Linked DNA regions of Homo sapiens. The protein of the gene in region 1 purifies or fractionates together with the protein of each later gene. This does not show direct contact. Each region holds a gene or a part of one and is shown in the gene's direction. Other genes may lie near its edges. The genes, in order: CAMKV, CWC22, ACIN1, TCOF1, GPC1, AP3B1 and ZC3H18.

Region 1 (4,086 bases):
GTGTCTACACTAAGTTTGGCATTAGTATGGTGACTTCCTGGGAGCTAGAGCTCATCAGGTTGCCTAAAGGAGGGGTGAAGCAACCAAGGTCAGAGACGAAGCAGGTCAAAACTCCTGTGCTGATCAGTAGTGGGCTTGTGCCCATGAATAGCCACTGCACTCCAGCCTGGGCAACATAGTGAGACTTGTCTCTAAAAAAAGAAAGAAAGAAAGAAAAGAAAAGAAAAGAAATAGGTCTTCCAGAATCCCCCCATGTGTCCTGAATCAATCATAACCCCTCCTTTTCTCTTAGAAGGGACCATTATCTGACTCTGCTTATTTCCTAGCTTTTCTTTATAGCTCTACTGCTGTGTTTGTATCCCCCTTACGGGTTTGTTCTGCCTGTTTGAACTCTATCAATAGACTCATACTATATGTATTCTTTTGTGTCTTTTTGCACTTAACACTGTGTAAGAGTCACCAGGTGGTTGGGTATAGCTGTAGCTCCTTTGTTTCCATTGCTATATAATATTCCATTGTGTGACTCTACCACAATACATCCTGTTGGTGGTGGTATTTGGTCTGTTTTCAATTTTTGGCGATTATGTATATGGCTACTATGAGCATTGTATGACTGTCCTGATGCACGAATATGTGCACTTCTGTAGGCACGTATTTAGGAGTGCAATTGCTGGTTCATAGGGTATGTTTGTTTGACTTTAGTGGTTTTACCAAACTGCTTTACAAAGGGGAGTTTGCCCTCTCCTAGCAGTGCTCACGTTCTTCATATATCCACTAACACTTGTTAGCTCTAGACCTTCAGAGATGACTAGCAGGTGGGTGGGTGGTTATAGCCCCCTTCATCTGTAAAATAGCTGAAATTTAAATAAACTGTTTGATAAGCCTTTTTTTTGAATGTATAGAATACAAAACTATTCCCTTATATATCAGCTTAATACATTTTTTCATATGTAGGCTGTTGCACTTCAGGCAGCCAAGCTGAGTAGCTGGATGTCTAGCCAGAAAAGCAGGGGTAGGATCTAAGCCTGCCTATCCTCTAGCCCCTCCTGGTATGGTCTCTGCCCCTAGCTTGGCCTGAGCCAGGTTGGGGTCTCCCAAAAGCAGCCCCTATGTTGTGGGGAAGTGGAGAGTAGTACAGCTAAGCCAGACCCCATTGTGCCCGCAGGTTAGAGCCTGGCAATGCCGTTTGGGTGTGTGACTCTGGGCGACAAGAAGAACTATAACCAGCCATCGGAGGTGACTGACAGATATGATTTGGGACAGGTCATCAAGACGTGAGTGCCGGGCCTGTCAGGCAAGGCTGGGTGGGCTGGTGAGCAGGGGCTAGGGAAGTGGCAGTGGAGTGCAGCTGATGCTAAGGCCAGGCCTGAGTGGGTGCCTGTCGGCTGCAGTGAGGAGTTTTGTGAAATCTTCCGGGCCAAGGACAAGACGACAGGCAAGCTGCACACCTGCAAGAAGTTCCAGAAGCGGGACGGCCGCAAGGTGCGGAAAGCTGCCAAGAACGAGATAGGCATCCTCAAGATGTGAGTTTGAGGCCTGGGATTGGGGCGGGGTGGGAGGCAGCAGGGAAGGGCTTAGAGGGCAAGTGGCCTCAGGCAGTCCCAGCCTCTGGCCAATTAGTCTGCTGTGGCCACTGTGGTGACCACAGCCTCTCCCAGGGGTTCATCCAGCCCTAACTACTGGCTCCCCTCCCTGTCGCCAGGGTGAAGCATCCCAACATCCTACAGCTGGTGGATGTGTTTGTGACCCGCAAGGAGTACTTTATCTTCCTGGAGCTGTGAGTGTGGGTCTGGGGACCCAAGATTCCCCAGCGCCCAGGGCTTTCACCTGTCCCACCCTCTGCAGCTAAGGAAACCCCCTTTCTGGACCCTTGGCGTCCCAGGTCCCTGTGCCTTGCTCAGCCAGCTGCCTGGCGTAGGCAGCTCACCCAAGTGCTCCTGCCCTACCCCTGATTCTGCCCACGCCAGGCTCAGGGGCTGGTGTCCCTCAGGGCCACGGGGAGGGAGGTGTTTGACTGGATCCTGGACCAGGGCTACTACTCGGAGCGAGACACAAGCAACGTGGTACGGCAAGTCCTGGAGGCCGTGGCCTATTTGCACTCACTCAAGATCGTGCACAGGAATCTCAAGGTGAGGGCAGAGCCAGAGTCAAAGGGCCAGTTGGCAGCTGGGCTGGTGCTGGGGTGGGCAGCACCTCAGGGCCTTGGTCTAGCCTCCAAGGTCCTCATGGTGTCTTCTGCTCACCCACATGCTATTCTCACACCACAGCTGGAGAACCTGGTTTACTACAACCGGCTGAAGAACTCGAAGATTGTCATCAGTGACTTCCATCTGGCTAAGCTAGAAAATGGCCTCATCAAGGAGCCCTGTGGGACCCCCGAGTATCTGGGCAAGCAGGGGGTGGGGCAGGGGCAGGGGGATAATGGGGGGCAGCCTTCAGGGAGCTGCTCTGGGCAGGGGGAAAATGTGCTCATCTCAGGAAGCTGGTGTGGATGGTACTGGACCTGGCTAGGCCTGATACTGACCAGCAGATGGGCGCTGTGTTTGTAGCCCCAGAGGTGGTAGGCCGGCAGCGGTATGGACGCCCTGTGGACTGCTGGGCCATTGGAGTCATCATGTACATCCTGTGAGTGGACAGATGGACAAGCAGGCTTGCAGTCAGATGGGGTGGGGGCATGTGTCTGTGGCCTTTCTGTGTGACCCTTCCCCCATGCAGGCTTTCAGGCAATCCACCTTTCTATGAGGAGGTGGAAGAAGATGATTATGAGAACCATGATAAGAATCTCTTCCGCAAGATCCTGGCTGGTGACTATGAGTTTGACTCTCCATATTGGGATGATATTTCGCAGGCAGGTGAGGAGGTGCCTGCCCAGCACTTGGTAGAACGCAAGGGAGTGGGGAGGGTGTCCTGCTCTCATCTTCCTCTGTGGTATTCTGCTTCTGTCCCCCAGCCCATTTATCACCTCTAGACATTGAGATGGGGTGCCCATGACTATCCCCTTCTTGGTTTTGTCCACAGCCAAAGACCTGGTCACAAGGCTGATGGAGGTGGAGCAAGACCAGCGGATCACTGCAGAAGAGGCCATCTCCCATGAGTGGTGAGCAGGGTCCAGGGGAGGGTGGGAGAGGCCAGGGTCCCCCTCACACCCAGCAGCCCCATCTTTGAGGCCTGGAAGGGGTGCAGGTACCTAGAGCTCAGGGCAGCCCAGAGGCTCTGCCTGGTAGTCCCTGGATGCCACATAGAAGGGCTGAGCAGAGTCTCCACAAAGGCTCATTCTCTCAGATCCAGACACACTTGCACCCTTTCCAGGATTTCTGGCAATGCTGCTTCTGATAAGAACATCAAGGATGGTGTCTGTGCCCAGATTGAAAAGAACTTTGCCAGGGCCAAGTGGAAGGTAAGGCTTGGATAACTCCCTTCTTGGCTCTATCCCAAGTATTGCTTCTGGCACTCAGTTTCTTGCCTGCATCACACCCCTGCAGCCACACACAAGCTTTTCTCAGGCCATCAGGTGTGGGTGTAGCCACTGTGATTACCTTAAGTAGGAGTGCTGAGCAGCTGAGTACTTGGCCCTGGGGTGGATGGAGGTGGCCGGGGGTACTATGGAAGGAGTTTGGTTTGGTCACTGCCAAGCAATGGATCCAGCAAGCCTCACCCTTAGCCTTTCTCCACTGTGCTCCTTTCAGAAGGCTGTCCGAGTGACCACCCTCATGAAACGGCTCCGGGCACCAGAGCAGTCCAGCACGGCTGCAGCCCAGTCGGCCTCAGCCACAGACACTGCCACCCCCGGGGCTGCAGGTGGGGCCACAGCTGCAGCTGCGAGTGGAGCTACCTCAGCCCCTGAGGGTGATGCTGCTCGTGCTGCAAAGAGTGATAATGTGGCCCCCGCAGACCGTAGTGCCACCCCAGCCACAGATGGAAGTGCCACCCCAGCCACTGATGGCAGTGTCACCCCAGCCACCGATGGAAGCATCACTCCAGCCACTGATGGGAGTGTCACCCCAGCCACTGACAGGAGCGCTACTCCAGCCACTGATGGGAGAGCCACACCAGCCACAGAAGAGAGCACTGTGCCCACCACCCAAA
Region 2 (4,086 bases), on another chromosome or scaffold:
TATGTAATCCCATTTGTCTCTTTTTGCTTTTGTTGCCTGTGCTTTAGGGGTCATATCCAAAAAATCATTAACCATACCAGTGTCTCAGAGCTTTTCCTTTGTATTTTTCTTTTAGAAACTTATAGTAGTTTCACAGTTTCAGGTCTAATGTTTAAGTCTTTAATCTGTTTTGCGTTGATGTTTGTATATGCTGTGGGACTAAGGTCTATTTTCATTCTTCTGCATCTGGGTATTCTGTTTTCTTGGCACCATTTATTGAAGACACTGTCTTTTCCCTATTGTGTCTTCTTAGCATCTTTGTCGAAAATCAGTTGACTGCCAATGTCTGGATTTATCTCTGGTTTCTTTGTTCTCTGTAGCTCTATGTGTCTGTTTTTATACTATTGTCATTCTGTTTTGATTACTATAACTTTGTAGCAGATTCCAGGTCAGGGAGTGTGATGCCTCCAGCTTTGTTCTTTTTGTTCAAGATTGCTGTGGCTATTTGGAGTTTTTTGTGGTTCCATGTGAGTTTTAGGATTGTTTTTTCTATTTCTGTGAAAAACGTAACTGGAATTTTGATAGGGATTGAGTCCAGTCTGTATGTTGCTTTGGGTACTGTGGACATTTTAACATATTATTTCAGTCCATGGACATGGGATGTCATGCATGTTCTTCCATTTTTTCATCAGCAATTTGTAGTTTTTAGTGTACAGCTCTTTCATCTCCATGGTTAGATTTATTCCTAACTTTTTTTTTCATAGCTATTGTAAATGGGATGTTTTCTTGATTTTTCAGAAAGATAGTTCATTGTAAGCATATGGAAGCACTACTGATTTTTGTATGTTGATTTTGTGTCTGCAGCTTTACTAAATTAGTTTATTAGTTCTAACAATTTTTTGGTTAAGTCTTTAGGGTTTTCTATATTAAGATCCTGTTTACAGCAAACAGGCTTCTCTATTTTTGATTTGGATACCTTTTATTTCTTTCTCTTGCCTAATGGCTCTGGCTAGGACTTCTAGTACTATGTTGAATAGAATTGGAAAGAGTAGGCACCCTTTTCTTATTCCTGATCCTAGAGGAAAAGCTTTCAGCTTGTCACCGTTGAGTATATTAGCTATGGGTTCGTCATATATGGCCTTTATTCCAATTTAATTTCTAGTGAGAGTGAAATGGGAATGTGAGAGAAATGGGAAAGATGAGCAATACATTTTAGAAAAGCAGAAGGGAATCACCGTATTCTATAAGAATATGTGGCTTTAAGCAATTGGTGATATTTAAAAGGGTCAGAAAATAGAATTACTCCATGTTGTATTTATTATTTTAAAATCTGAGGGCTGTTTTCTCATGTCATTTTACATGACTATGATTCATCTTTAAAAAAATATGGAATGTAGTGGCCAGGCACGGTCGCTGTAATCCTAGCCTGTAATCCTAGCACTTTGGGAGCCTGAGGCAAGAGGACCACTTGAGTCCAGGAGTTGCCTGGGCAACATTGTGAAAACCTGTCTCTATGAAAAATACAAAAATTAGCTGGGCGTGGTGGCACACAGTAGTCCCAGCTCCTCCGGAGGCTGAGGTGGGAGGATTGCTTGAGCCCAGGAGGCAGAGCTTCCAGTGAGCCAAGATCGCCCCACTGCACTCCTGCCTGGGTGACAGAGTGAGACCCTGTCTCTCCCCAACCTCTCCAAAAAAGGTGGGGGTATAAAGTAGGAGCAGCAAGTTTTAGAGGTAGAGAAAGTTGATCAAGAGACAGCCATTATCCTCAAAAGTGGGCAGAGATCTCTCCAATTTACTTAGAAAAAAAGTAGACTTAGAAGAGTTATGGATTGCTAAAGATACTATAATTTATAAGCTGCATCCTTTTTCTTATTTTCCACTCTAGTGATTCAGTTGTCATATCTAAAACTACCATTAAGACTTTTTTTCCTGACTTTTGGCAATCCAATAATTACTTGTCATTACATTGCTAAAAGTAACTTTAGTTTGCCCAATTTGCCTTTCCCCTTCCTCATCAAATGCATATAGAAACATGACCATTTTCAAAATGAGTTACAAGTAGGTACCTTTTAATTTCCTGTTACTGTTTTAGCATTAATCTGGCATTGCTTTTAATTCGTTTCTTTATTTCTCACAGGAGTATTCCACATCTTCATTTTATTCTACTAAAATTAGACTTAAAGATTTAAACCCAAATTTGTCTTTAATCACAAAATTAATTTTATAAAAATGACAGATCTGTAGTAGAAACTTTATGTTATCTACCTTTTATACTTTTGAAGCAGGTCTGCTTTTGTTTACTTTTTAAAAAATGTTAAAGAAATTATTTATATGAACCTTTTTAAGGTTCAAATTCATGATTAGATATAACAGACTGGGAAAAGAGGAATTATATGTAGAGAGAAAAATTTTGGTGATAAATTGCAGTAAAATCTTCATTCTATTTTACAAAATCACAAATTCACATTTCGTTTTCTGAAAAACAATTTTTATTTATTAGTAAGACAAACTCTTTCCAGTTAGTTCTGATTTAGATTTTATGATTACTTATAGAGAAATATTACTGAATTTTAATAGTTTTTGTTTCGTTTAATTAATTTGGTGATTATTGTTGACTCCTTTTTAAATTCTTTTTTAAACAGAGGACTGCTGTCCAGGTCTGTTTTGCAAGCACAGAGTGCTTCTCCAATCTTCACCCATGTTTATGCAGCATTAGTGGCAATTATCAACTCAAAATTTCCACAAATTGGAGAATTAATCCTCAAAAGGTTAATTCTTAATTTTCGAAAAGGCTATCGAAGAAATGACAAGGTATATATGAATGGCTTGTAAGTAGAATGATACATAGGAACAAACTAACAAACCAGTATCAACAAAAGTAAGCAAGGTTGATTTTGACACAGCTACATAACATAATGCTTTTTAAAAACTGTCTTTCATGAGAACTTCTTTGATCTGTTAAATATCCCTGGCCACTATTGATGAGCCACAAAAATGATGGCTATAACTGTAGAACTATAACTATTTAACCAGAAGGGATACTCTTTCATGTGTTTTATTTTGTAACTTTCTTATAATGTAAAAATTATACTTGTGTGGTACATGTTTTAAATAGATGATGTTAGTAGGCCATAGATTATGTAAATAAATGAAAATTGGGTTTAGTTTATAGGTTAACTTTCCACCTTTATTTTTCAGCAACTTTGCCTGACTGCTTCAAAATTTGTGGCGCATCTTATTAACCAAAATGTGGTAAGTAATTATCTTCAATACTTGGTCCCATTCAGTGGCATTAGACCAGAGGGTTGATGCCACTTCACTGATACCTCTCTATTTTTGCTTTGCTTTATAGTCCTTGGGATAAAAATGTTGGATGATATTTTCATTTTAAAACTATAATAAATATATTTAATGTTCTTTTTTTTTTTCTTTTTTTGAGATGGAGTCTCACTCTGTCGCCCAGGCTGGAGTGCAGTGGCACAATCTTGGCTCACTGCAAGCTCTGCCTCCTGGGTTCACACCATTCTCCTGCCTCAGCCTCCCGAGTAGCTGGGACTACGGGCACCTGCCACCACGCCCGGCTAGTTTTTTTTGTATTTTTAGTAGAGACGGGGTTTCACCATGTTAGCCAGGATGGTCTCGATCTCCTGAACTCGTGATCCACCAGCCTCGGCCTCCCAAAGTGTTGAGATTACAGGTGTGAGCCACCACGCCTGGCCATATTTAATATTCTTTAATATAACACTTTGATGCTGATCAAAACACTTTAGATATTTATCAAATTAATCTGACTTAATACTGTACATGGTTACTTGACTGCAAACCATTCCTTTGAAGAACCATTCCCTTCATTTTTATAAAACAATAAAGTTGGTATCTCCTCCACTTCATTCCCTGCTGTTCATGAGAATCTAATAAATATCTGATATTCTACAAAAACCTCTATTCCTTGCAACCACACAGGTATAGTCATATATTTTTAGAATCACTTGATAGAATAGAGTTGATCGATTTTAATCTGTTTCAAATGCAGGTAATTTTATCATGCTGTTATTCAGTTTGTGTTTATTTTATATTCATTATTTGATGGTTTTGATTTAGCTTTTA
Region 3 (3,622 bases), on another chromosome or scaffold:
GTTTCACCATGTTGGTCAGGCTAGTCTCAAACTCCTGACCTCGTGATCCACCCGCCTTGGCCTCCCAAAGTGCTGGGATTACAGGTGTGAGCCACCACACTCAGCCTCCAAATATGATTTCTTTAAGTTAACCTTTTACCAAAACTCCAGCCAGAGGTAACCTGTAGGTATTACGGTTTGAACTAGCAGAGGTCCTGAGACCATCTAACTGTTGGGTCTATTTCTTGGGGACAGCAGCTACCAAGGGGGTGCCAGCTGGAAACAGTGACACAGAGGGGGGCCAGCCTGGTCGGAAACGACGCTGGGGAGCCAGCACAGCCACCACACAGAAGAAACCTTCCATCAGTATCACCACTGAATCACTAAAGGTGAGGTGGGAGGAGCCAGGGAAGGGAGGATGAGACCTGTTAAGGTGGGAGTAGACATGGGCCCAGTGTAACGGGGTGGGGGGTATCTGTGTCCCAGAGCCTCATCCCCGACATCAAACCCCTGGCGGGGCAGGAGGCTGTTGTGGATCTTCATGCTGATGACTCTCGCATCTCTGAGGATGAGACAGAGCGTAATGGCGATGATGGGACCCATGACAAGGGGCTGAAAATATGCCGGACAGTCACTCAGGTAAGGCTTCTGCACCCCAGTGTCAGGGGAAAGGTGGGAGCAGTAGATGCAGAGCAGCTAGCTGAGGAGCTGAGATAAAGTCTTTGGAGGGAACTTCCCTGTCTGTGCAGAGGGTTGGGTTGACTGACACTTTCAGGGGTCAGACTACCAAATCCAGCTGGCTACCTGTTACAAATAAAGTTTGATTGGAACACAACCACACGAGTTCATTCACTTTTGTCTGTGGCTGTTTGTTCACTACAACATCACCAGAGTTGAGTAGTTGCAACAAACTATGTGGCCTGCAAAACCTGAAGTACTGCTTTGCTCTACAGAAAAAATTTACTAACTCCTGTCTTAGTTTTCCTCAAGGCAAAGTTGAGGCACTAACAATCCCAGGATCTGGTAGAAGTGAGCCGATAACGAAATACCCCTAGCGGAAGGAACATGCTAGATTGACTGCTACTCTTACCGGGGAACCAGAGGCTGAAAAGAATATGCCAGTTTGGTGTTTAACAGACCTGCTGTGTTCTCTGACACCTTGATAGGTAGTACCTGCAGAGGGCCAGGAGAATGGGCAGAGGGAAGAAGAGGAAGAAGAGAAGGAACCTGAAGCAGAACCTCCTGTACCTCCCCAGGTGTCAGTAGAGGTGGCCTTGCCCCCACCTGCAGAGCATGAAGTAAAGAAAGGTGAGTGACATATTGTGAGAGAAATGTAATGCGGCTCCCTGAATTCTCAGAGCACCTCATTTGGATCGCTGAAAGCTTTGAATGTTTCCTGCCTTTCATTATATTTTTTCGTATATCATATCTTTCTCCTACATATTAAGTAAGCTACTTGAGGGCCAGATTTGACTCTGTTTAATCTTTGAATCTCCATGATGAGGAGGTTAGCCTAGCACAGTACTTTGCAGATTATAGGTGCTCTGCACGTTTAGATTAAGGAGTGGCTGCTTGGTATAAAAGAAAGGGAACCGTGAGAGTTACATTGAGGGTGAAAAGAGCCAGTATTGCTTCCTACCAAAAGCTGTTCTTGTGGTCTTCTTGATAGTGACTTTAGGAGATACCTTAACTCGACGTTCCATTAGCCAGCAGAAGTCCGGAGTTTCCATTACCATTGATGACCCAGTCCGAACTGCCCAGGTGCCCTCCCCACCCCGGGGCAAGATTAGCAACATTGTCCATATCTCCAATTTGGTAAGTCATTGTTTCTCACCATCCCAGCTTGCTTAGTGGTTAAGTTTGAGCTTTAGGCTTATGCCTCCTAGGTTCCACTCATAGTTGAACTGGTCTACCAATAGATTAAGTTACTCACTGATCTTGAGTGAGTTACTTAACATATTTACCCATCTAAAAATGAGGGGGAAAAGCTGTTGCCCTGCAGGGTTGTTTTGAGGACTTGCAGAAGGCCTCACATACAACGTCTCAATTAGTGCTGGGAAGCACCACCACTCTTCTCACATTCTTACTGCAAGGTTCCTAAACTCTCTGCCCTCCCCCAAACCTTGAAACTATACTCCTGTGACAGCAGCTCGGGAAATCTAAAGATTGGGTGGTGGTCTTGCCTTCTGCTAGACCCTGAAAGTCTATTTTCATTGGCAGGTCCGTCCTTTCACTTTAGGCCAGCTAAAGGAGTTGTTGGGGCGCACAGGAACCTTGGTGGAAGAGGCCTTCTGGATTGACAAGATCAAATCTCATTGCTTTGTAACGGTGAGGGGAAGAAGCTGATTCTATAGGTCATGGCATATATTTCCTTTTGTGACCAGTGTGGGCAGGTTTAAGGGTGTTGCAGCACGTGGGAAGGGTTGCAGACACACTGTGACCCTCCATCTTCTCCCTTCCTCCACCAGTACTCAACAGTAGAGGAAGCTGTTGCCACCCGCACAGCTCTGCACGGGGTCAAATGGCCCCAGTCCAATCCCAAATTCCTTTGTGCTGACTATGCCGAGCAAGATGAGGTAAGAAACCTAGGGAGAGGAAAGAGAGGAGGGGCAGGGGAAGCCATTATCTGCTAGATTTCAGCTGAGATCCTTGCCAGACCTGCAGTCTCTGAGCTTCTGTTCTTTTCTCTTCTTCCCTGGCTTTGGTTCCTTTAATTGTACCATGGGGCTTCAAAGTGGTACCTGGGCTCCTTTTTTTTTTTTTTTTTTTTTTGAGACAGAGTCTCGCTGTCTCCCAGGCTGGAGTGCAGTGGCGCGATCTCAGCTCACTGCAAGCTCCGCCTTCCGGGTTCACGCCATTCTCCTGCCTCAGCCTCCCGAATAGCTGGGACTACAGGCGCCCGCCACCACGCCCGGCTAATTTTTTTGTATTTTCAGTAGAGACGGGGTTTCACCGTGTCAGCCAGGATGGTCTCGGTCTCCTGACCTCGTGATCTGACCGCCTTGGCCTCCCAAAGTGCTGGGATTACAGGCGTGAGCCACCGCGCCCGGCCATCCTGGCTCCTTGAGTGGGAGTGATATCACCTCTATCCTAACTGTCCTTGTCCCTCCTCTCCCCACAGCTGGATTATCACCGAGGCCTCTTGGTGGACCGTCCCTCTGAAACTAAGACAGAGGAGCAGGGAATACCACGGCCCCTGCACCCCCCACCCCCACCCCCGGTCCAGCCACCACAGCACCCCCGGGCAGAGCAGCGGGAGCAGGAACGGGCAGTGCGGGAACAGTGGGCAGAACGGGAACGGGAAATGGAGCGGCGGGAGCGGACTCGATCAGAGCGTGAATGGGATCGGGACAAAGTTCGAGAAGGGCCCCGTTCCCGATCAAGGTCCCGTGACCGCCGCCGCAAGGAACGTGCGAAGTCTAAAGAAAAGAAGAGTGAGAAGAAAGGTAGGTACTTAGCTATGGGGTACGCATACCCACTAGTAGGTGGGAAAGGGACCCAGATGGGATGGGACAGAGGGTCAGATGCATCATATCTGGTTCACTTTTTTCCACCTCAGAGAAAGCCCAGGAGGAACCACCTGCCAAGCTGCTGGATGACCTTTTCCGAAAGACCAAGGCAGCTCCCTGCATCTATTGGCTCC
Region 4 (4,086 bases), on another chromosome or scaffold:
TAAGCACTGAGAATCAGTGAATATCGATATCTAACGGGGCCCAGGTGGCATGGTTCAGCCACCTCTCCACTAAGAAGCCATTTGAATTCCAGGCAACTTTCTCTGTGGACCTGAGGCTGGCTGCCTGCCTGACCACTGCCCCTTCTTGCCGAACAGCTTTCAGGGCTACAGTGTGGTGGCCTGTGTGAATGGTGCCCATTGCAGTGTGCAGTGCCCAGTAGGCAGCAAGAATGTGGGCCAGTCCTTTTCCCTCCAGGGGCCTCCACGTCTCATGCTGCGGGGGAGTTGGGAATCCATCAAGGATGCAGACACATAGCTTCATGTTACCATCCTCTTCTCTCTTGCTCCTGGTGGACCTGGCTGATGCATCACAGAGCTCATTCCTGCAAGTCTGGGCTCAGCCTCAGATCCTCATGCCAGCACCAGGCAGCCAATACCAATAGAATTGTTAGGTGAGATGAAACCTGTTTGCCATTCATAGATGAGAAAAGCTCATCTGGCTCCTTTAGCAGATGTTTGTTTCTTGCAGCCCCAAGACTAGCATCTACCAACTCCTCAGTCCTGGGGGCGGACTTGCCATCAAGCATGAAAGAAAAAGCCAAGGTGAGTGGGACTGCCTTCCAAGCTATTGCCTATGGGATTTAAGGTGCCTGGTAGGGGACAGTCTTACATGTCAGAGAAGGATAGGGTTGTGAGTAATTGCCCCACCTGGATTCAGAGCTCAACCTGTGTCACCAGTTGTGGGATCTTAGTCCCTTCACCTCTCTGGGCCTCAGTTTACTTTTCTATAAAGATAAGGATGATGCCTGCTGCAGTGGGCCACTGGGCACATTCTACACCTGGGGTAGGCGATTTCTTTCCTCTTTCATGCCTGCGTTCACCCGTTCACTCAACAGATCTTGACTAATACCTGTTATGTTCCAGGCACTGTGCTAGGTGTGGAGGCACCGTAGTGATCAAGACATCTGTGGTTCTGAAACTCTAAAAGCATTTTCCAAACTGGAAACTGCTCAAAAAACAAGGTGTCATTTTCTAATAATCCAGAAAGCAGAGTTAGATACATACATGTATAAAGAATTGTGCCTCTGCGATTGCCTGGAGCATTAGCAACAATGTCTCAAAGTAATTATGAAGTAATGATAAGATCAACAACAAACTGCTACTTACCACTTAGTAAATAACTACCATGTCCCAAGAACTGGGATTCTGTTTTCTCAACACCTCTGGTGAGAGGAGGTGCTGTTTTTAACCTCACTTTAAAGATTGGGAAACAGATTGAAGGGGTAGTTTACCCAAACTCACACAGCTAAGAAGTGGTAAGATTGGGTTCAGATGCAAGTGGCCTGTGCTCTTAGTTCACCATGCCATACCAGATGTGTCTGTCACTCTTGTTCTCTGTAGGCAGAGACAGAGAAAGCTGGCAAGACTGGGAATTCCATGCCACACCCTGCCACTGGGAAGACGGTGGCCAACCTTCTTTCTGGGAAGTCTCCCAGGAAGTCAGCAGAGCCCTCAGCAAATACTACGTTGGTCTCAGAAACTGAGGAGGAGGGCAGCGTCCCGGCCTTTGGAGCTGCTGCCAAGCCTGGTAAGAAGTCCCCACCTCTAGGAACCTAGTCCCCAGAACTTGGGCTGGTGAGGCAGGCCTAGGCATTGCTTTAAGTTCTGGGACATTTCTGGAATCAAAAGTTTGTCTCCAGGACAGCCAGGTTCCTGCATCTTAGGACTTTTCTCATCACCTAGACGAGGGAGGGTCAGCTTACAGGGACCTGGCCTCAGGCTGAACAGCCCACCTGGTGGTTGGAGCATTTTCTGCTTTATGACTCCCTGGTGAGTTACAGGGACAACTGGCAGCTCAGAGACTAAACTGAAAGGCCTGATTTGCCTCTGTTTCCTATGTAGAGTAGACATCTGTCTGGCCTGCATCAGTGGATATGATGGTGGATGGAGGTTCTGTAGACTGTCAGGTGCTGGTGCATATTTGTTGGGTCCCCTCACAGCCCTTCCCAGGGCCTCAGAGATGTGTGGGAACATAGGGATGGTGATGGTACCCACCTCAGAAGGGGGCTTCACAGCTCAGTGCATGTGAGGCACACGAGGGGTGAGCGCTCAGCACCTGGCTTTGATGAGCAGCTGGTTTGTGGGGAGGTGCTGGGGAGGGGCAGGTGAGGCTGGAAAGGGAGTCCCTCAGTCCCCTCCGTGTCCGATCCTCAGGGATGGTGTCAGCGGGCCAGGCCGACAGCTCCAGCGAGGACACCTCCAGCTCCAGTGATGAGACAGACGTGGAGGTAATTGCCACCCATCCCTAGGAGTTGCCCTCTCCCAGCCTCTAACCCTTCCAGGAACCTGTCTGGGGCTTCAGACACCAGTGGGCCCAGATGAGTTCAGCAACTGTGGTAGGGTGACCAGGAGCTGGAAAGGCTGCAGCCGGAGAGGGGCAGGGAGAGGAGTCTGGTGCTGCTTGCTGCACTCTGAGTGTGAGATCAGCCCTGGGGGCAGGAGAGGGACACCCTCCTGCCTGTGAGACTAGACAAGCCTTCCTGGGAGAGGTGCCCTGGAGTAGGGCCTCAAAGCACAGTGGGCTTCACTGGGAAGGGATGTGGAGGAGGCAGGGCATTCCAGACAGGAAATGGGGCAAGAACAGGGCCCAGAGGCAACAGTGTGGCTGTCGTGGTCTGGCTAGGGCTGCGGCTGCTGAGAGGGTTCTGGGCCAACTGGTGAATGCCAGGCCTAGACACTTGGCTAGAGTTGGGCAGGACTCTTGGGTTTGTGAACTTTGACCTGGAAAAGGTCTCCACAGGTTACTTTTTATTGTGTACCTACTAAGTGGCAGACCTGGGGAATATAGTGATGAGCAGGACAGGCAGAGTTCCTGCTGCCATGGGGCAAGGGAGCGTCCCTCAGATATTTAATTGGTGATGGCTGCTATGAAGTGGAAATGTAGAGGGCCACGCAGGGCAGGAACCTGACGTTGATGAGTAGGCGTAAGCAGAAGGAATGGCATGTGCAGAGAAGGCGGCAAAGAGAGTTTGGTGCTTTTAAAGAACATTGATCTTTTTTTAAGACAGTCTCACTGTGTCACCCAAGCTGGAGTGCAGTAGCGCGATCTTGGCTAGCTGCAACTTCCACCTCCCGGGTTCAAGCGATTGTCGTGCCTCAGCCTCCCAAGTAGCTGGGATTACAGGTGCACGCCACCACGCCTGGCTAATTTTTGTATTTTTTGTGGAGACAGGGTTTCACCATGTTGGCCAGGCTAGTCTCGAACTCCTGACCTCAAGTGGTCCATGTGCCTTGGCCTCCCAAAGTGCTGGGATTACAGGCATGAGCCGCCACGCCTGGCCAAAACCTTGATCTTTAAATGAGAGGGAGAAACCAGGCACGGTGGCTCGCACCTGTAAGTGCAGCACTCTGGGAGGCCAAGGCAGGAGGATCATTTGAGGCCAGAAGTTTGAACCCAGCCTGAGCAACATAGTGAAACCCTGTCTCTACAAGATGTTATTTTTTAAAAAAACAAATAAATTATGGGGAAAGTGACACAAGATGAAGTCCTAGGTAGACAGGGGCCAGATCTTCTGTCTGACCTTGAGGACCACCATAAGGAATTTGGGTTTTATTCTAGGGGCTGTGAGAAGCCATGCCAGCAAGGAGAGATGGCCTGATTTGCATTTAATAAGATTGCTGGCTGCAGCCTGGGTTGGAGGGCAGTGCAGAATAAAAGCAGTAAGACCATGTAGGAGACTATTGGAGTAATACTGATACTGGCATAAGAGGCTGGGGGCTGGGAGACCAAGGTGTCCACAGTTGGAAAGATGTTTTCAAGGGAAAACCAGCACAAGTCAGGGATGAACTGATCTGGTGCCCAGGGAACTTCTCACTTTACTGTGCTGCCTGGCCCAGTAACCCTGTGAAGGTTGAAAGCTCACCCCCATCTACCCCAGGCCTTACCAAGGGCTGCCCTCCACCTTCCGTCCTCACCCTTGCGCCCTAGATACCACCAGCTGTAAGGACATCCCTGGCTTCTGTCACCCCAGGCCTTGCCAAAGGGAAGAAGACCACTCCCAGCCCTCCATAAACACACAACCTCAA
Region 5 (4,086 bases), on another chromosome or scaffold:
TCCTGACGGGGTGGGGGGTGCAGTGTAGGGTGTTGAGGCTTGGGCCAGGGAAGCGGGCGGTTCTCCCTCCACCTCCAGGCCCCACACCCAGGCGGGAGCACGCAGCAGCCAGGTGTTGGGTGAGGGCTATGCTGAGGAGCAGGGCCCAGAGCTGCAGCCTCCTTGGCTGCCCTTGGCCCGCCGTGGGTGGCGGGGAAGTACAGGTGTGAGGGGCATACCCCACTGCCCCAGGCTCGGTAGCAGTCTGGAATCCGGGTGGGTTTAGGAGCCCCTGAGAGGGCCAGGCCAGCCTCACACCATCCCCTCTCCTGCCTGTGGCCTCAGCTCCATCTCCCGCCAGCTCCTGCTGACCCACCTTTCTGGCACACCTGTCCCCTCCCTCCACGGTGTCCTCCCTGTGCCCACCCACAGCACCCGCCTCCTCCGGCCTTTCCCCACAGCTTGACTTCCCGGGCATCGGCCAACACGTACCCTCCCTGTTGCCGGGGCCCCCGCCTGGGCAGGCCTGAGCTCCACACAGGGTGGGGAAGGCCCCGAGTCCCTCCCGGTACCGGGTGGGGCTGGGTGCCGGGGTTGGGAGCACAAGTGTTTCCAGGGCTGTCGGAACAGTGCCACAGGCTGAGCAGCTGCAGCTGCAGACATGGGTCGTCCGTGGTTCTAGAGCCTGGAAGCCTGAGATCAAGTGTGCGTCCACCAGGCTGGCCCCTTCTGAGGCGTGAGGAAGTCTGCTCCACACTGCCAGCTTCCAGGTGTTCCTTGGCTGGTAAATCCCACCTTGGCCTCCACAGGCCGCTCTCCCCGTGTGCGCTTCTGTCTCCGAATTCCCCCTCTTCACAAGGACACAACTCTAATTGGGTCAGGGCCCACCGGTACCATCTCTTCTTAACGAGAGGTGTCACACAGACTCCACACCCAAAGTCACATCCTGAGGAATCGGGGTTAGGCCTCAGCCATGTGGGTTTTGGGGGTACAGTTTAGCCTGTAGTGGGGAGCTAGCCCAGCCCGGCACACCTACATCTTCCCATCAGGTGGCAAAGACCCCGAGGCTCTGGGTGTTTTGTGATTGTGGCCTCCTGAGCACTGGGCCGTGTTTCTGTAATGGGCTTAGAGCTCAGCACAGATGTGCCCGAGACCCTGGTGACAGTGTGAGGGAGTGACCACGCCCCAGCCTGCCACTCACCCCCGTCCACCTGAGGCGCTCTCTGGGCACAGCCTGGTCCCCACAAGCCTGGGAGGCCTCAGCGTCAGGCCCTGCACAGCTACTGGGTCCTTGGCCAGCCCCTCCTGCCGTGGGCCTCCGCTTTTCCCTCAGGTCCGGGTGGCAGGGCCGGGCCACTCAGGTGATGTTCCAGGTCTAGTGGTACAGCAGTGGCTGAGGATGCCGCCGCCTGTGCCGTCACAGAACTGGGGTGGGGGGCAGTGGCCAGGCTGGCCTGAAAACCTTCTCCAGGTTGCGTTGCGGGAGCCCAGGCTGGGAGAGTCGTGGTTCAGTGGTGTGAGTGTGCCTTGGACAGGCCCCAGTCTCCCACTTGTCAGGGGGCAGAGCCCTTCAGGTGGACTTTGGGCGGGGAGGCAGTGGGACTGCAGGGCGAGGGTTTGGAGATGTAGAGATGAGGGAGGCCTGGGGGCCAGGAGGCTGCACCACTGCTGTCTCCTGAGGCGGTGGCTGGCCGAGGAGGCCCGCTGCTCTCTTGTGCTGAGTGCCCCTTGGGTCCTGCAGGCTTGGCAGGGTGACAGGGCAGCCACCCAGGGGCTCCACCTGTCCTGCTCCTTCAGGAGGAGGAGACCTCCCAGGGCTGTGGTGGGGAGGAGGGCCAGCCACAGAGCCACTGCAAATCATCCCTGAGGCCAGGCGACTCGGAAGCAGAAACCCTGAGCCCAGCACGGGGCAGTGGGAGGTGAGGCCCAGCGGCATCTGTGAACTAGGCCTCCTGGTGGGCTCTCAAGGTCTTTGATGGGGCGCAGCCGGTGGACAGGGAGAGAAGGGTCCCTCTTTCCCCAGGCCCTCCCTCCCCTGGTCCTCTCCCACCTTTGAGGTGCCCCAGGAGTTCCCAGAGTCGGCAGCACCAGGGGCTGTCTACCGGGTGGGCTGAATACCACTTAGTTTGCAGATGGGAAAGCTGAGTCCCAGAGAGGGGTTCCCAGGGCTCAGAGCTGAGAGGCCTCGCCGCCTGGGGCCAAGCCCCACACTTGCTTGCCGAGTGACTCACTCCTGCTCTGGGCCTGGCTAGCAGGGGTGAGGCTGGGTCAGAGGATGGGGAGCTGGGCCAAGGCCACAGACTACCCCGCAGGTGCAGGCACCCAGAGGCCTGAGGGGCACCGGGAGCGCACAGGAGGGGAGGCTGTGAACACGGCCCGGCTTCTTTGCAGCTCCGTGTCGGGGCCATGTGAGGACACACACCGCAGGAGGGCCCGGCCAGCCTCAGCCCAGCCCAGCCGCCACGCCCGGTGGGTCTCCTGAGGTCAGAGCCAGCCCCACAGTGGGCACCACATGCCCGCCTGCTGTCCTGGCTCCTCCTGAGGGACAAGGGTGAGCTGGGCGGGCCAGGAAGTACAACGCTGCTAGGCTTCTGCTCTCGCCCCACAGAAGTTCAGGTTCTACTGAGAAACTTGGCTGGGGCTTCCGGGGACTCCCAAATCCAGCCGCCCAGGACCCTGCGGCACTGTCCATCCTGAGCCCCGTCCTCACCCGCTGGTCCATCCTGGGGTGATGGATCTGGCTGCAGTGACCCCGATGCTCTGAGGCCCAGAACAGCACGTCTCCCTCCTGGGAACAGCCAAGCCTTAGGCCCATGCAGCAGCGACCGGATCCCTAGCCTCCCCGGCAGGGGTGCTTCCTGGGTGCGCCATCAGCAGTGGGACCTGTAGGGAAGTCTGTGGCCTGTGCGCACCTTCAGACGATTTCCCCAAACACCGACGACAGCTGTCCAGTGCGTCACAGAGCTGTGGCCTATGGGTGATCGTCTCAGCCTGTCCCTGCATCTGGTGCAGCCTCAGTGCCCACTGTGGACCCCGCAGCCCACCCGTGTCTGGCGCATCCTTGGTGACTGGGGCTCCCTGTGGCTGTCTGATCCCATCCCTGTGGTAACCCATGTGTGACGTCCAAGTGTCTCCTCAAGAACCGGGGCCAGGAGGCCCATCCTTGGCTCTGGAGACTGCAGGGAGAGCATCCCACCCACCTGTGACCATCTACCAGGCCCTGGGGACAAAGCTGATGCCACCTGCCACCAGGGTTGGCTCAGGCGTTTACATGCATCTCCAGTTGTCATGGAGCTTGGGACACACTGGACCCAAGGAGGTATTTTAAAAGGACAAGTCTCTCACGTAATCCAGCCCCACTGTTCCTGAACGCGATGCCCCCTCCCCGAGCCTGGCGGGGGGCTGTACACAGAACACTGCTCAGCATCTTCAGTCTCCCTCCTGTGGCCTCACACCCAGGATGGTAGGTGTTAGAACAGGTGCCTCCCTGTTCTATGTGCGTGGCCTCATCCTGTGGGCAATTTGGGGTGAGGGGTGGCTGCAGGTCAGACAGATACCTGGGAAGGTCCCCTGGGATAGGGTGGCTCCCAAGCGGGAGCAGTTGCCCTGGGCACTTGTGACATCCCAGTGATTGAGGAGTGGGGGTGCTCTGGTGTTTAGTGGGTGGGGCCAGGGAGCCCAGTAATCCTGCAAGATGGAGGTGCCCTTCCACAAACGCCAGTAGCACCCCCAAGAGAAATACTTGAACTGAAGCTATAGGCAGAACCACGCCAGGGGAAGAGGGAGCTCAGGGGAGGGGGCACCACTCAGCGCCAGGTGCTGGGATGGGAGGAAGGGCAGACTGTGGTGGCCAAACACCAGCATGCAGGAGGGTTGTTCTAGATGCATCCATCCTTCTGTGGGTGCACGGATGAGGTTCTGGATGTAATTCATGGGCTTCATGAACTTGGCTGAGAAAGAGATTACATCTCCATCGTTGCTAACCTCTAACCAGAATTTAGCATTTTTTCTTACTCGGAACGATGGTGTTCCGGGACCTGGGGCTTGGTCACCAGTAGACGTCGCCGCTGTTTATGCCCCTCCACGTTCGTAGCAGACAGCTTGGAA
Region 6 (4,086 bases), on another chromosome or scaffold:
AGGCAAGAGGGTGAGCAGCAAGAGGTGAGAGAGGCAGGCGACGGGGACAGTTGTGGAGGGGCAGTCATGAAAGGATGGTTGTATTGGGCTGTGCAGACTGTTGTAGGGACTTCGGCTTTTTCTCTGAGTAAAATGGGGAGCCACTGCAGGGTTTCAGGCCAAAAAGGAGCTTGCTCTCATTTAGGTTTTAATATAATCATTCTAGATGCTGTGTTTTGCAAAGTTTGTTTGCTGGGGGCAGGGTGGAGGGGCAGTAGAAGCAAGGTAACGAGTAGTCCAGGAGAGAAGGGTGGGTCAGACCAGGGTAGCTACAGGATTTCTTGATGGCTTAGATGTTTAGGATATGAGAAAAAAAGAGAAGTCAAGGATTACTCCAGGATTTAGGCTGTTGAGATGGTTAGGGCAATTTATTGCCTACACTAAATATTTTCTTTTCTTTCTTTTTTTTTTTCTCTCTTTTCCCTCAGTGTCAAGCTATCAACTTGTGTTTGTTATTGCTGTTATTGTATCTGCTTCTAGTTTCGCTCACCTATTTTAGGATATATTACTTTTGTTTAAATCTTCTGTGGGCCAAAAAACACAAAAGTTTTAAAAATTGTATATTTAAAATAAGATTGTTGGTTTAACATAGGGCCTCTGAGTGAGAGTTTGTGTTGTTGTATTTAGGAGTAAAGTGAATCAGCCTTAATGCCAGGACTTCTAACAGTTGCATTCCCTGTGGAGGCCTTAAGCTTGCTTTTGAATTCAGTTATGTTGTTAATGATTAAGTTTGCCAGAACTCTAAATCTCTGAATGAGAATTCATTTATATTTACTTTATTTGTTTAAACAGGCAAAAGAATGGACCCCAGCAGGAAAAGCAAAGCAAGAGAATTCTGCTAAGAAGTTTTATTCTGAATCTGAGGAAGAGGAGGACTCTTCTGATAGTAGCAGTGACAGTGGTGGGTTTTATAATTTATTGGCATATATTATTTACATAGTAGATTACATTCTATATCTCAGAAACAAGGCCTAATCCATAATATTCAGCAGGTAGTTTTAAGTGAAGTTTGTATTATCAAAATAATCCCTTTCATTTATATATCACTCTTTAGTTTTCAAAGTAATTTTTAATTACTAAATTCTCTTTTTACTTTACAATATCTCTTGGATAGTAGCTGATACATTGGTATAGCTGAAACAGGAACTCATACTTTTCTGAATTCTAAACCACAATGCCTAATATATCTATTGAAAAACATAATTTTACACTTGATGAACTTTTAGTGGGGTCTTTAAAAGTAACTTTCTTTTACAAAAACGTAAAGTTTATTTTATACCTTGAAGAGTCTTTTTCTCTTTCATTTTATACTTATCTCTTTCTGTGAACCTCTATAGAGATAAAGCTAAAATTATTAAGTCTCTATATACTATAAAAAAATCAAACTAAAGGTTGAGGGTAACTATATGCAGTGAAAAGAATGCTTAATAGGAAGGATTTAGAGGCCCTGGCTTTTACCTATGCAAATTGAATAAGGCACCTACTTTTCTCTATATCAGATAAATGAAGGGGTACAGTTAAATATTTCTTAAAGTCCCTTCATTGCTAAAATTCTGTGAGTGATTTGCATAATGAAAAATAGATTGTAGTCACTTTCTGATGCTCTTATTAACACTTAAGCTAATAGGCAAATCTGACCCAAGACCAAACGACACCCAACTTTCTCTAAAATCTTTATTCCTTGGAGAACCAGGGCCTGTCACTCTTACATGGTTATCTGCTACCCTACTGTAAGGTAATTCACTCTTCTTTTCTCTGTCTTCCTTATCAAAAATCTTTGTTTTTAGTATCTGATAAATTAATCTGTGATACATTACCTGTAATTTCTTTCATTGTTTATAGCATAAGCCAGTTATCTGACTTAATATGTATGTGCGTGTAACTTGGATATTACCACAAATCTAAAATGTCCTTATTTAGTAGCTTTATTTTAGTAAAATAAACTTTCCTGTTTGTAAATGATGATAATGATGAGTGCCTTACCCTGTGGCAGACCCTGTTGTGTTCTAATCTCCTTTGTATGTTTCAAATCATTTAATCTTCACAACAGCTCTGAAAAGTAACTAGTGTTATCCCCATTTGCTGAAAAGGAAACCAAAACCCAGAGAAGTTGAATAACTTGTTCAGTTTTACAACTGGCAAGTAGAAGAGCCAGGATCTGAATCCGAACACTAACTTGAGAACCCATGCTTGTACCCCTTGTAAGCCGTCTTAAAACAATACAGGCAGTCCTAGGTTTTCACTGTGATGGACCTTCCTGATGTTGGTATTATTTAACCATTAGAATGTTTAATTAAAGGTTATGTTCCTGCCTAAGAGGGCTTCGTTACATAGATCACAGGCAGGGCAACAGTTTGTCCTTTTGTCTGGGACACAACTCTGTAGTTATAGTCATTTTAAATAGTAAAAATTATGCTTCACTTAAAAAATACACATATATTCTTCATGTATTCTCTTCTGCGAACAGTCCTAGCATACCATAATTTACACATAAAACATTTAAAAGTATAATTCCTCAGTGTAACTTGATCATCTCTTTGACCTATGGAAAACTCGTTTACTAGCTCGAATAAGTAATAACTCTTTAATTAGTCATTTTGCCTATTGTCTTTGAATTTGGAGGTCTTTCCAAGTGATTTGAATGGCTCATTTTCCTCTCAAAATTTGTTCCTAAGAAGATTCAACTGTTGCCTTCTTTTACTCTAAATAGAATTTCCCATTACAAGCAGAAGAATTCAAAATTATTTCTTTAGCCTTACATCAATCCTTACGTAATTCTTTAAAAGAAAGTTTTTGACATAGCTATATACTTTGGGGTTTGAAGTGAGATTCCCTCAAATTTGGTTTACTTGGTTCACCTTTGCTTAGCTTTTCTCTCCTCGTTGTCAGAGCATCCTCTGTCTGCCTCCCTCCAAGCTCACAGTGCTAAAGGAATCCATAGAGCTGAAAGAATGGGGTGTGGGAATAAAATGTTAAACAAGTGGTGTCCACTGAACTAAAATTCAACATCTGGTTTCATTTGTGATGAATATTGACAGTTACAGGTGTCCGTGTGTCTAATTAAATGACTATAAATCTAAGAACATCTGGTTCTGTTTTTCAGAGAGTGAATCTGGAAGTGAAAGTGGAGAACAAGGCGAAAGTGGGGAGGAAGGAGACAGCAATGAGGACAGCAGTGAGGACTCCTCCAGTGAGCAGGACAGTGAGAGTGGACGGGAGTCAGGCCTAGAAAACAAAAGAACAGCCAAGAGGAACTCAAAAGCCAAAGGAAAAAGGTAACTTATTTTGTCAGAATTTCCTTCAAAAAATATTCTGTGAAAGTTTGCCCCAGGCAGAGATGTTTCTTATTAATCAAAAAATGGTGAGAGAAAAAAAGTGTGTATTTTTTTCCAGATATTAAATCTTTTTAAAATTAAAGTGCTAGTTGTTCACATTATTTTCCTACTTGTAATGCTTAGCTTTCATTTTGAACTTGAACATATCTTGGGGTTACATTTTGAAAATTGGTATAACCTTGGAAGGCTGAGTTAAGTGATCAAGCAATAGGTATGAAACACTTAATTACCTTTTGTAGCGATTTTGCTGAGGGCTAAAATTAAATCCTTCAACACTTTGCCATTATGTAACCAAGACAATTGATTTTTCTAAATAATGTTATATTAAAAAGATTATGATCCAAATATTAGAGTCAAGGGCTGTGAAGGAAGACGGTCATAAGATCTTTAAGTGTTAGCACTTTTTAAGATCTCCCATTATCAATAACATTATCATGTATTAAAGTGTCATTAAAATTTTGAGTAATTGGGTCTAATATCTTGGATTGTGCAACTCTGTTTTCCCCGCTGCTGTCAGCGAGTGGCCTCTGCCGACATGATGGTCCTTTCCCCGGGAGCCTGCTGCCCGCTCACTTGATGAGCTTGCAGCCCGGCTCAGTCGTGGCTGACAGCACTGATTGGGGCGCAGTACGCTCTCTGCTCCTTTTATTACAGACAGTAATTAAAGCAGCTCTCCCTGCCACTTCCATAACAAACACAGCATAATGCCCTA
Region 7 (4,086 bases), on another chromosome or scaffold:
TAGGACCCTTTGTTTCTCAGGTGATCCTTAAATAAGCCAGGTATGAGATCCATAGTCTCTCCCGCTGCTGTCACACCTGGCATTGCTGTGAAGCGGAAGGTGGCCTGAGAGTTGCTAATGCCTCTGTAATTTCAGCCGCCAAGCTGAGCCACCAAAGAAGGAGGCTGCCACCACGGGGCCGCAGGTGAAGAGAGCAGATGAGTGGAAGGACCCTTGGCGCCGATCCAAGTCTCCCAAGAAGAAACTCGGGGTGTCGGTCTCCCCGAGCCGGGCTCGAAGGCGTCGGAAAACATCAGCCTCGTCAGCCTCTGCCTCTAATTCCTCCAGGTAAGGAGGGCTCGTGGGACGGCTGGGGTGTCAGCACCTTGGAGCCGTCAGCTGACACCATGTACCTCACTGGGTCAGGTGGGGAACACCCCAGCCCCACTGTTTGCTGTGGCGTCGTTACCTGCAGACCAGTCAGTGGGACTAACCCGGCGTTTATACCTTCAGCAAAGAGCATCAATGCCAAGTAGGACTGACGCAGTGACCCCAAATGGGGCACAGACCCCGGCGACTGAGCCTGACTGCTCCCAGGGAGTCACAGGCCACACTGGAGGGAGGGGCACCTGGATGCGGGAGGACGCACAGACCTGGGGCCCAGTGAGTCCATCTGTTCCTCCAGACTGGACCTGAAACTGTTGCCCCTCCACCTACGGTCCTGGTCTCAGCACACAGGAGCCCGGCTCCCGAGTGAGGGATGATGGAAAGCAGGGGGCCGGGGTAGACCCCATCATGCTCGGCAGGAACAGGAGGTGTGGGTGGGAGGCCAGGCTTCACTGAAAGTGGATGCAGATGAACAGATAGACACACACACGGACCCACGTGAGCTGGGTCTGCCCACTCAGGCAGCGCCACCCGGTAACAGCAGGCACACCCCACGCCCAGGTCTTGATTTCTAAATGCCGTTCTGCACCAAGGAGGGATGGCACTGAAGAGTGTCTGGGGGAGGCTGTATGCGTCTGTGCGCGCGTCTGCAGCTGTGCGCGCGTGCGCAGCTGTGCGCTTGTGTGTAGCTGTGCGTCTGTGGGTGTGTAGCTGTGCATGTGTGCGTCAGGGCGTGTGGGGCAGGGAGGGCCCTTCTCACTTCTCGCCACGCTCCGTCCCGCCCGCCCCAGGTCGTCTTCGCGGTCATCGTCCTACTCTGGCTCCGGCTCCTCCCGGTCGCGATCCCGGTCTTCATCCTACAGCTCCTACTCCAGCCGCTCTTCCAGACACAGCTCGTTCTCAGGAAGCCGGTCCAGGTATGTCCCCAGGGCCCATGAAGGGCCCTCAGCAGGTGCAGTGAGCAAGGGCACCTGCGGATGTGGCTTTAGTTGTGGCGCCAGTAGCCCCTTGGGGTATTGAAGGTCCCTGCTGGCAGCTGAACTAGGATGGCCAGGGGGTCGTGTCCTGTGTCCCCCACCAAACACCAGCCTTGCGGGCCCTCGTCCTTGTGTAGATGCGTGCTGTCACTGAGGGCCACAGCCTGAGATCCTCGAGTTGAGGCACTCCAGTCCTCCGCAGACAGGCCGAGGAAGGGGCCAGACCCAGCCCTGTCCTGTGGGTGTTTCTATGGGAGCTGTGCTGCTGCCCCACTGCCAAGGAGCCTGTCTCCTCCTGTCCTGCACACACATGAACGTGACACTCGCCTCCCGGAGGACCCGCCAGTGGATGCTGACACCTTCCACGCTCTCTGGTCTACTCTGGGCCTGTGTTTTTAGCAGATGACAGAACAGTCCAGAACTGAAGTTAAAACTGAGGCACATAAATGGAAATTCGTGGCCTTCTCCATGGGTCTGGGTGGGTCCTCAGTGGGCTTGGGCTGGTGAAGAAACACCCCCAGGCCCCTTCCGACACCTTTGTTCACTCCCCTAGGTCCCGGTCCTTCTCTTCGTCCCCGTCCCCGTCCCCAACACCTTCCCCACATAGACCTTCCATCAGAACCAAGGGAGAGCCGGCCCCGCCGCCCGGGAAAGCAGGGTGAGTGCCCAGCCTGTGGGCAAGTCCTGGCCGGCCAGGCCTCCACAGGCTGCAGCCTCCTCCCTCCGTCTCTATCTCTCATTTGTGTTTGGGACCAAAGAGGTGAGGATGCCTCAGGGGGCTGGCCCCAGGGGGTGACTGGGCTGGGAGGCACTGGGCACAGCTCCTGTTCTCACGGGCCACCCTTACACAGCAGCACTCCCTCGGGAACCCTGGGGACAGAGCACAGCCCTGGGGACACGGCAGCAGCCGGGTGTTCTTAAGGGGTCTTCCTATTAGCCTGCTCTCCCCACTGCCTGGCGGTGCCTGTAGCTCTTGCCTGTTAGAGGGGAGCCTGGAAGGGCTGCTGGGGGCTTTGAAGCCGTTCCCAAGCACTCTGACACCGATGGGTGGGGAGCCGTGTCCAGGCACGAGCGTGCTCACCGAGCGTCACAGGCATGCAGTGTCGTTCCCCGAGCTGTGGGTCCATTGAAAGGGGATGTAGGCCAGCGGGGCCCCGTCCACCAGCCCTGCCCTGCTCGAGCCTCCCTGTCTCACAGAGAGAAGTCAGTGAAGAAGCCGGCCCCGCCTCCAGCCCCACCACAGGCCACCAAAACCACTGCTCCTGTCCCCGAGCCCACCAAGCCAGGAGACCCTCGGGAAGCCAGGAGGAAGGAGCGGCCAGCCAGGACCCCCCCCAGGAGGTGAGCACTCCGGCGTCCGGGGCCCTCAGGCTTTCCGTGTTCTTGGTGCCACTGTGATGCTGGCACTGCTGGAAATCCAGAGTGCCAGGGTCCAGAGCCAGGTGGTGGGAAGCGCCCCCTAGCCGAGCAGCACCCAGTGAGCCCTTACCCGGGAACCTGCCCTGTCCCCTCCCTGAGCCTGTGTTTCTGGAGCGTGAAGGGGAAGGGACAGCGTGGCACGGAGCACAGGCCTTCCCGCCATGGCCCCGTCTGCACTGGAAGGTGCTGCCCCCGAGAGACTGTACTTTTTATCTTGACAAAACACTGAGCCTAAAGGAAGACAGGCCCAGGCCCTGTTCCAAGGTGGTAGCAAGGCCAGTCTGGAGGCTCACCTCACAGGGCTGCTGGTGGGGAGGGGAGGCCGCGAGGGGCTGTGGAGGCCACGCCCCCTGAGCCCCGCTGTTGCTTGTATTACAGGCGGACGCTAAGCGGCAGCGGCAGTGGCAGTGGTAGCAGCTATAGTGGTTCCAGCTCCCGATCCAGGTCATCCCCATCACCCTGTGCCTCTGTTTCTCCCTCCCCGTCGGGGCCAGGAAGTCCCAGAAGCAGCCAGTGTGGGTTGGGCTGTCTCCCACAGGTGGGCTGGGGCCCTTCTGGATCTGAGTCACCCTGGGGCTGTGGAAGGCTGCGGTTGAAGCTTTGACACAGGAGAAAATGGGCCAGGACTCGTGATAGGAAGACCCCCTCCCCCCACCAAAAAAAGATTCACAAACTCGGGGGCACTCAGGTCAGGAGGAGGTGCCTCTGCCCTGCTGACTTGATGCCCAGCACCCTGAGAGAGCACCTGCACCTGGGGAGGAGCCGGCAGCTTCCAGCCCAGCAGGGCAGAGGCTGGGCCTGCGTGACCTATCACACCTGTCGAGGGAACCGGCCTGAGGGGGTGGGGAAGCCGATAAAAACATCTGAGAAGAGAATACATGGAAAAGCTTTGTGGGCCAGGTGCGGCGGCTCACACCTGTGATCCCAGCACCGTGGGAGGCCAAGGCAGGAGGATTGCTTGAGCCCAGGACTTGACCAGCCTGAGCAACATAGACCCCATCTCCACAGAAAAAGATTTTTTTTTTTTTTTTTTTTTTTGAGACAGTTTCATTCTTGTTGCCCAGGCTGGAGTGCAATGGCGCGATCTCGCTACCTCCGCCTCCCGGATTCAACCTCAGCCCCCTGAGTAGCTGAGACTACAGGCGCACACTGCCACGCCCAGCTAATTTTCTGTATTTTAGTAGAGATGGGGTTTCACCATGTTGCCCAGGTTGGTCTCAAACTCCTGAGCTCAGGCATTCCACCCACCTTGGCCTCCCAAAGTGCTGGGATTACATGCGTGAGCCGCCGCACGCAGCCTAATTTTGTATTTTTAGTAGAGACT

What was found.
Region 2: the proteins of CAMKV (region 1) and CWC22 purify together in Homo sapiens (affinity purification with mass spectrometry; 4 studies listed by BioGRID and IntAct, with this or other methods). This does not show direct contact.
Region 3: the proteins of CAMKV (region 1) and ACIN1 purify together in Homo sapiens (affinity purification with mass spectrometry; 4 studies listed by BioGRID and IntAct, with this or other methods). This does not show direct contact.
Region 4: the proteins of CAMKV (region 1) and TCOF1 purify together in Homo sapiens (affinity purification with mass spectrometry; 4 studies listed by BioGRID and IntAct, with this or other methods). This does not show direct contact.
Region 5: the proteins of CAMKV (region 1) and GPC1 purify together in Homo sapiens (affinity purification with mass spectrometry; 4 studies listed by BioGRID and IntAct, with this or other methods). This does not show direct contact.
Region 6: the proteins of CAMKV (region 1) and AP3B1 purify together in Homo sapiens (affinity purification with mass spectrometry; 4 studies listed by BioGRID and IntAct, with this or other methods). This does not show direct contact.
Region 7: the proteins of CAMKV (region 1) and ZC3H18 purify together in Homo sapiens (affinity purification with mass spectrometry; 4 studies listed by BioGRID and IntAct, with this or other methods). This does not show direct contact.

Annotation. Positions count from the first base shown.
Region 1 is NC_000003.12:49,859,482-49,863,567, reverse strand, and holds part of CAMKV (caM kinase-like vesicle-associated protein), read left to right. Parts: exon of another isoform or gene 1-193; intron 194-1,165; 5' UTR 1,166-1,179; coding exon 1,180-1,274; intron 1,275-1,391; coding exon 1,392-1,523; intron 1,524-1,702; coding exon 1,703-1,777; intron 1,778-1,990; coding exon 1,991-2,129; intron 2,130-2,267; coding exon 2,268-2,388; intron 2,389-2,549; coding exon 2,550-2,625; intron 2,626-2,715; coding exon 2,716-2,852; intron 2,853-3,018; coding exon 3,019-3,097; intron 3,098-3,309; coding exon 3,310-3,397; intron 3,398-3,686; coding exon 3,687-4,086. UniProt on the Homo sapiens protein: Does not appear to have detectable kinase activity.
Region 2 is NC_000002.12:179,972,338-179,976,423, reverse strand, and holds part of CWC22 (pre-mRNA-splicing factor CWC22 homolog), read left to right. Parts: intron 1-2,621; coding exon 2,622-2,790; intron 2,791-3,177; coding exon 3,178-3,231; intron 3,232-4,086. UniProt on the Homo sapiens protein: Required for pre-mRNA splicing as component of the spliceosome. As a component of the minor spliceosome, involved in the splicing of U12-type introns in pre-mRNAs. Promotes exon-junction complex (EJC) assembly.
Region 3 is NC_000014.9:23,061,101-23,064,722, reverse strand, and holds part of ACIN1 (apoptotic chromatin condensation inducer in the nucleus), read left to right. Parts: intron 1-234; coding exon 235-368; intron 369-465; coding exon 466-618; intron 619-1,145; coding exon 1,146-1,287; intron 1,288-1,648; coding exon 1,649-1,794; intron 1,795-2,199; coding exon 2,200-2,307; intron 2,308-2,447; coding exon 2,448-2,555; intron 2,556-3,100; coding exon 3,101-3,425; intron 3,426-3,538; coding exon 3,539-3,622.
Region 4 is NC_000005.10:150,367,315-150,371,400, forward strand, and holds part of TCOF1 (treacle protein), read left to right. Parts: intron 1-529; coding exon 530-603; intron 604-1,401; coding exon 1,402-1,588; intron 1,589-2,214; coding exon 2,215-2,288; intron 2,289-4,086.
Region 5 is NC_000002.12:240,441,744-240,445,829, forward strand, and holds part of GPC1 (glypican-1 precursor), read left to right. Parts: intron 1-4,086. UniProt on the Homo sapiens protein: Cell surface proteoglycan that bears heparan sulfate. Binds, via the heparan sulfate side chains, alpha-4 (V) collagen and participates in Schwann cell myelination.
Region 6 is NC_000005.10:78,112,980-78,117,065, reverse strand, and holds part of AP3B1 (AP-3 complex subunit beta-1), read left to right. Parts: intron 1-831; coding exon 832-940; intron 941-3,142; coding exon 3,143-3,314; intron 3,315-4,086. UniProt on the Homo sapiens protein: Subunit of non-clathrin- and clathrin-associated adaptor protein complex 3 (AP-3) that plays a role in protein sorting in the late-Golgi/trans-Golgi network (TGN) and/or endosomes.
Region 7 is NC_000016.10:88,622,062-88,626,147, forward strand, and holds part of ZC3H18 (zinc finger CCCH domain-containing protein 18), read left to right. Parts: intron 1-135; coding exon 136-327; intron 328-1,157; coding exon 1,158-1,283; intron 1,284-1,896; coding exon 1,897-2,001; intron 2,002-2,540; coding exon 2,541-2,684; intron 2,685-3,140; coding exon 3,141-3,206; intron 3,207-4,086.